2 linked regions of the Homo sapiens genome follow. The protein of the gene in region 1 purifies or fractionates together with the protein of each later gene. This does not show direct contact. Each region holds a gene or a part of one and is shown in the gene's direction. Other genes may lie near its edges.

Region 1 (3,750 bases):
CCATTAATTCCATCAGCACATTTTATTGTTTTTGTCTTAAAAATATATCCAGAATCTGACCAACTTCTCACCATTCCCACTGCTACCATCCTGGTCAAGCCTTCACCAGCTCTCACCTGCAATATTGCAGTAACCTCCAAAGAAGTCTCCCTGCTTCTATCATTGCCTCATCCCCCATTATAATCTATTCTCCTATCTCCGAGTGATCTCTTTAAACATAAGCCAAGTCACTTCAAAACCCTGCAATGGCTTTGTTTCCCTCAAGAGTAAAAACCAAAATTCTTCCTATGGCCCTTTGTTCTCTCTCTGACCTTCTCTCGCTACTTTCTCCTTTGGTTACTTTCACTCAAGTCTCTGTATTTTCTAAATGTTCTTCAATAAGATACTGTTTTTTTAATTAATGAAGTTTTAAATGTAAAACTATGAAAGAGTAATCTAATCTGCCATTTTATCCAAATGTTTCCACTATTAGAACACGATTGTATAACAAGTCTGAGAAGAAAAACTAAGTAAATTTATGACAAGAGTTTATGGTGCCCTGAATGTCTACGTACCTAATGAAGACGTTGATACAGAGAAATCGTCTCAAAAAATCAAACGGTATGGTGAAATACCACAAGTTCTGGGTTTGGGATTGAAATATATTTCTTAAATCTTTTATTACTTACTAATTGTGATACCTTGACTAACTCACTATTCTCTGATTCAGTTTTCTTCTGTGTAAAGATGAAGTGGTCTGTAAAACCAAGAAACCTCGTGTTCTATAACAGGAACACCTTTATATAGCTACCCAAAAAAACACCTAAAAAGGCTGACTTATTCCTAAGAGTGTTATTGAACATTCTAGATTAATCTGCATATACAAAAGAATGCCAGAGAAGAAACCAAAATACCAAAAATATTTGGAGCCTGGTTGCGGACTGAATTTTATACAACTTTCAAAGACACTATTTGAGAGGCTGTCGTGTGTAGCCTACTAAGAAAAAACAGAGGGGTGGGGTGGCTCACTCTCTAGGAACCACAAACTTAAGGTTCCTAGAAAGAGCAGAGATTTTAAATATTCAGACTGTGTATGTATCATGACCCAGGGTTGGGGGCAGATGGCCCGGGGTGGCGGGGGAAAGGAGAGATGGCGGAGATCTTCTATCAGGCTATCCTGGGGAACTGCTCCAGGCTGAAACAAACCACCAGTTAGGACGAACCGCCTTTGATGTGAAAGCTGGGAAGCTAGAATGTAGTTTCGCCTTATCCTTAGCGGGTCGGTTCTAACAATTTTGTCACCCAAACTGAACCACTCACCGGGTCAACTGGGCTGCAAGCCCTTATGAGTTGGAGACAAGTGGCCCAGCCCCAACACAGTCAGACAAATCGCTGGGCGGCCATCTGCTCCTGAGACCGTTGCTAGAGAAACAAGACAACATCCAAGTTCTCCACATCATGGTTTTCCGGGCGCCAGCCAAGGCGCTCCGGGGGCGTGGTTACGTGGGCGACGCACGGAGGGGGCGGGTCAGAAACAACCGGGCGGAGGCGCACCCCAGGGCGCATGCGTGCTGTGCGGCGCGGTCTCAGGGAAGGTGGGGCTATGGCAGCTGCTAGGGACCCTCCGGAAGTATCGCTGCGAGAAGCCACCCAGCGAAAATTGCGGAGGTTTTCCGAGCTAAGAGGTACCAGAGAAGGCACCGGAGTTCTCCTGGGCAATGCAGAGGGAGGGTGCTTTTACGTGCCAGGAGGTTTGCTGGACTGTCACTTCCCGTTTACTTCTCATCTGTAGGCCTATGACGCTCCCCAGGAGTAGCTAGCTAATAATCCTTTTGAGTTTTTTATTCTTTTCACTGTCCCTGCTTGACATGCTTGTTGCTTACTTTATTCTTAGTAGTATAGATATTAAAAATGAGGGCGGAGGAAGAAGAAGAAAATCTTACTAGTGAAGTTATGCATTGATTAGCTCATTAATAAAAGTTGCTTTAAATAAATCTAAAAGATACGAAGCACAGTATTTTGAACTTTATGAGTAGATGCCAGCCCCCTATCTACTTCACGCTTTACATTACGTTCATCTACTTCTGTAATGTAACCGTTTGTTGAGGGAGTAACAGAACATGGAGGAATTATGGATTAAAAATTAAAAGGAAGAAATTTGTTATCAAAAAATTGGCTATGACACTTAATCCCTGTACACCTGTCTAATAAAAGTGATTATATTTGTGTTGCAGTGACTGCTTAAAAAATACTGGGACTAATTCTTGGATAACAGTAAAACTTTCAGGACTATTAGATTCTAGCTGACAAGTTCTGTTTGTTAACTAATTAAAATGCTAAATCATTTTGTTTATCAATAAAGAGATTCCAACTGTCTACTAAAAGTGCACACTGTCTTTTAAAGATGTCATCAGAGAGTTGGGACCTTCTGTTATCCAGAATTTTATGTTATATTCTAACAGCCTATGTAAGTTTGCATGGTTCATCTTAAAGTAATAGAAAATAAAGTACCCACATTTATAAACAGCAACATTGAGGGAAGGGATCTTTGGGTTGTGTCTTTCTTAGTCACCTAACACCAAGTGTCCGTGATACATAAGAATTGATTTGCAAAGCTGGAGATTTGTTTATGTTTATCTCCTCTTCTTATTGAAGAATTGAGGCAATAGTCTTTGGCAAGTTAAAAGTCGCTCTCTTAATCAAGAAACATTATGTCATTCAGAATTTATAATTAAATTGGATTGCAAACCATAAAAGGAGGGAGTGATCTAAAAGAAAAAAAAGGAACTTGTGAACAGTCTTCATTATAACTATTTTGAATCGTATTAATGCACCACTAATTATTCCCTAACTTTCAAAAGCCAAAGATACATTTTGGAAGATGATAATGGATATTACCTTCTTTATCATCTTTCTCAATAGGCAAACCTGTGGCAACTAGAAAATTCTGATAATTTTTGTTTTCATTTCCTTGCTTTTTCCAAATAGGCAAACTTGTAGCACGTGGAGAATTCTGGGACATAGTTGCAATAACAGCGGCTGATGAAAAACAGGAACTTGCTTACAACCAACAGCTGTCAGAAAAGCTGAAAAGAAAGGAGTTACCCCTTGGAGTTCAATATCACGTTTTTGTGGATCCTGCTGGAGCCAAAATTGGTACGCGCTTTATGGTCAGTTTTATAATATAGGTCCTAAGCAGAATAATCATTGAAGAAAAGGTTTCTGTGACTTACAGTGTATAAGCTGCATATCTCTACCCACAGCTTTACAAACTTTAAAATTTGAACATAAATTGACTTTTTTTAGAAAGATAAAAGGAATAGCAACTGTTCTTACCCATTATGACTTACCTTGAAAAACTTCCAGAATGTTACTTAAAAGAAAATTTTATTAGTTTTAATGAAATTCACACTATTCAGATAGGAATACTCCTTTGGACCTTATCAGTAGAACCCTTGAGGTCCTCTCCACTCCAGAGTTCCTCCAGCAATTTACATGAAGAAAGCAATTAGTGGGAAAAAATACTCTTGACCTCTTAGGGACATAATGCAGAATGCAAAAGAACACTGTCACATGGCTTAAATATAATACATATATTTGAAAACCCTAGTTTAGGTCAACTTTGCCCTTTGACCGTCCATTGCAAATAGAAATAAATGCTGTTTTTCTGAATGCTCTTTTCTATGTGATACTTAAAGTTGAAGCCCCCTGATACCAGAGATAAGATATCTGTATATGACATTAATATGACATTAGCATTATTCTAATTAG
Region 2 (3,439 bases), on another chromosome or scaffold:
CTAGATAATATGATATAAGAGGGCTAAGAATTTTTAAATTGAATCATATATATGATATAATTTGATCCTTCTTGTATCTTGAAGTTTTGTACTTGGGATTTCTGGACTGATAAATGAATCATCACATTCTTCTGGTAAATATTTTCTTGGAGCTCTGTGTCAACTTTGATCCTTTGTCTCCCAGGAAGGTGTGACCTCTCCTTTGCCTGCATACCTCAAGGCCAGGGGAATATGCCTCAGTGATGCATTTATCTTTGTATATCAGGCCGCATGATTCCCAACTTTCTGCCACACTTAAATTACGTTCCTCCATTTCAGTTTTGTCTTTTCTGTCTAAAGTTCAGTCAAAGAGTATCAAAAAATTATGTTTCAGCTAGACTGGTGTAATGTATAAGTTTTTGTATCTTGTATTAGAGGATTTCGTAGCTTTTATTAGAGGCTCATTTCCACCTCAGCATACAAGATCGTTAGTCTTTTGGCATGTGTGCCAATTAGAATACTAAAGCAAGTCCAAGCACATTTTTCTCTTCTCACGTTTCTAATAAGTGTTAGGGACTTTGCCTCTTTTACTTACCACGTCCCCAAAAGTGTCAGGTAGACATGTCACAAATGGCTCTGTAGAGAGCCATGGGAAGAGAGAGGAGGTGGATGTGGAACATAAAGGGTTCAGAAACTCCAGAAGAGGAGTGGGTTTTGGATAGAAGCATTTGAGGACAGCTGCTCCAAAGCCTTATGTGTATGATGAAACTTAACCACGGGGAAGAGACTCTTCAGTAGCCTGTTCTGTCTGGTGATTTTTATTTTAAGTGAACCTTTGGATCTATCTTTAACTCTCTTTATTGTGAGTCTAAATTCCAATTCTGCAGCAGATCAGTAAACTCACAGTATTTTTCCTGTGGAAATCTATTCAATAAGGAAACCAAGACAGGATAATAAAATTTAAAAAAAAAACAACTTTGAATTCCCCTGCCTAGGTCTTCCAGTTGTTTTCCAGCGCATACCTCAGGTATGACTTTGCTAGCCGGGGACAAAATTAGCACCTTCCGATTCTCTAGTCCAAATGAACTTTGTGCTAAATAAAAAATTATTATACTACATAATAAAGTTACAGATAGCAGGAAATGCAAGAGCTAGGAGATTCCTAGATTATATCTGCCAAGCAAATACCTTAAACATCCACCTGAAATCCTACTACCCCCTCTTCTGAGATAATTTGCCCAGCCCTTCTCTTCCCACACACTCACTCAATGTCACCCCCTTCTAATCCCCAAAACTGTTTTTGTGGTCTTTGTAGCCTATAGTAGTTTTCTCACATCTTTCCCCCTAGACTTTTCTGTTTTTCAGTTTCAGACAAAAAAACTCTTCAGCTTTTTCCAGTGTGTCTCCTTAACAGTAACTTTACCACTTGAAATCTTATTTCATAGAAAAACTAAATTGGTGTGGAAAGGCTGCACACAATAAAGTTATATTATTATCCATGAAAATGAACTCATATTTCTTTCATACTTTAACGTTAAAACCGAAATGCATGAGAGCAAAAGCACCATGGTGTTCTTTCTATTTAGGGCCTACCTCTAATATTTAAAATCTACCAAAGAGCAGTCACAAAATTAAAACTCAGCCCGGGCGCAGTGGCTCATGCCTGTAATCCCAGCACTTTGGGAGGCCAAGGCAGGAGGATCACCTGAGGTCAGAGTTCAAGACCAGCATGGTCAACATGGTGAAACCCTGTCTCTACAAAAATACAAAAAGCTGGGCATGATGTTGGGTTCCTGTAGTCCCAGCTACTTAGGAGGCTGAGGCAGGAGAATAGCTTGAACCCGGGAGGTGGAGGTTGCAGTGAGCTGAGATCATGCCATTGCACTCCAGCCTGGACGACAGAGTGAGATTCAGTCTCAAAAAAAATTAATACTCAAAGAATTATCTAGCATAATTTAAAAGAAAGGACTTTTTAAAAATTCTCTAGCATAATTCAAAAGAAAGGACTTAACTTTTTTTTTTTTAGTGTGGTCATCCGTCTAGTTGTTCTTTTTTTCCAGATCAGAGCAGAGAATATCACTGACATGCTTGAAATGGTGGATAACTATGTAAATTGTAATTGGACAAATGTACACTTTAGATTTATGGACTGAGCCACATATAATAAGGTCTCTCCTGGTAATTGATCCAGGGGATTTAGGCCTCTTTCGGGTTTTTTGTTTTTTTTTTAGGCATTGTTATGTTGTGAAGGATAAAATCTTCAACATCTTATGCAAATGGATAGTAGGCATGATCCTAAAGGTTTAGTTTTACGATGCTGCAGAGAAGAGAAATGTCTTGACGTTTTGCCACCTGATGTAGACTTTGTCCCCCTCTAGTATAAATGTTGCATGTTACCTAGATAAACAACTAAAAATTGCCTTGAGTTATCACCTGAGCTACTTATGCCAAGGTCTTGCCTTTCTAAAGCTAATAAGGTGAGAGGTGGATATCTGTAGCTCTTCGGATGAAAAATTGCATTGTGGGAGATACCAAAATTGAGGAAATAGCTCTTCAAAGAAAAATTACTGATATGATCATTGTACTTGTAAATGCCTTAAGTAGCAGGCAGTGACTCAATTTTCTACTTTACCATTTTACCTTTAGCTTTTATGTATGAATTATAGGTCTGTGGAGATTCTGCCTCCCCACTAGGCCAGTGTGTGTTTACCATTTATTCATTTTCTATCATACACAGGTGGATTAAAATTTACATTAAAATTTACATTAAAATACCATCATACTTCAGGCTTCTATAACAAAATATCAGACTGGGTGGCTTCAAAAGCAGACATTTCTTACAGTTCTGGAAGCTGGGAAGTCCCACAATCCACATGCTGGTAAATTTGGTTCGTGGTGAGGCCCCTCTTCCTCTTTTACTGACCACATCCCCAAAAGTGTCAGGTAGACATGTTACAAATAGCTCTGTAGAGAGCCATGGGAAGAGACAGGAGGCAGATGTGGAACATAAAGGGTTTAGAAACTTCTGCAGGCAGCAGTGGCAGGGAGCAAGCCCTAGAGTGTCTCTTTTTACGAGAGCAGGAATCCCATCATGAGAGTTCCTTCCTCATGACTTTATCTAAACCCAGTCACCCCCAACAAAGGCCCCACCCCCTAACCCCATCACATTGGCTGTTACGGCTTCAATGTAGGGGATGGGGCACAAACATTCAGTCCATAACGAATACTGATTCCTCAAATAGGGTTTAAACATAGTTAACTGAGCCCCCAAAGAATGTTAAAAGAGAAAATCCATTTTATTTGAATAGATGCAGTGACCACAGCTTCTTCCCTCAAATCAACACATTACAGTTAGATGTCTCCCATCTGAAATTGGATAGCCCACTGAAATTGAACATGCCTTCTCTTATAAATGTGTGGTGAGAATAAAAGCAACAAAGAAATGAATGTGGTGGCTCAC

The links. The genes of interacting proteins can lie anywhere in the genome.
Region 2: the proteins of FPGT (region 1) and NLN fractionate together in Homo sapiens (co-fractionation; one large-scale study listed by BioGRID). This does not show direct contact.

Annotation. Positions count from the first base shown.
Region 1 is NC_000001.11:74,196,697-74,200,446, forward strand, and holds the start of FPGT (fucose-1-phosphate guanylyltransferase), read left to right. Parts: upstream 1-1,545; 5' UTR 1,546-1,582; coding exon 1,583-1,664; intron 1,665-2,967; coding exon 2,968-3,135; intron 3,136-3,750. Other genes in the region: FPGT-TNNI3K fusion protein, read left to right, coding at 1,583-1,664, 2,968-3,135. UniProt on the Homo sapiens protein: Catalyzes the formation of GDP-L-fucose from GTP and L-fucose-1-phosphate. Functions as a salvage pathway to reutilize L-fucose arising from the turnover of glycoproteins and glycolipids.
Region 2 is NC_000005.10:65,823,204-65,826,642, forward strand, and holds part of NLN (neurolysin, mitochondrial), read left to right. Parts: 3' UTR 1-3,439. UniProt on the Homo sapiens protein: Hydrolyzes oligopeptides such as neurotensin, bradykinin and dynorphin A. Acts as a regulator of cannabinoid signaling pathway by mediating degradation of hemopressin, an antagonist peptide of the cannabinoid receptor CNR1.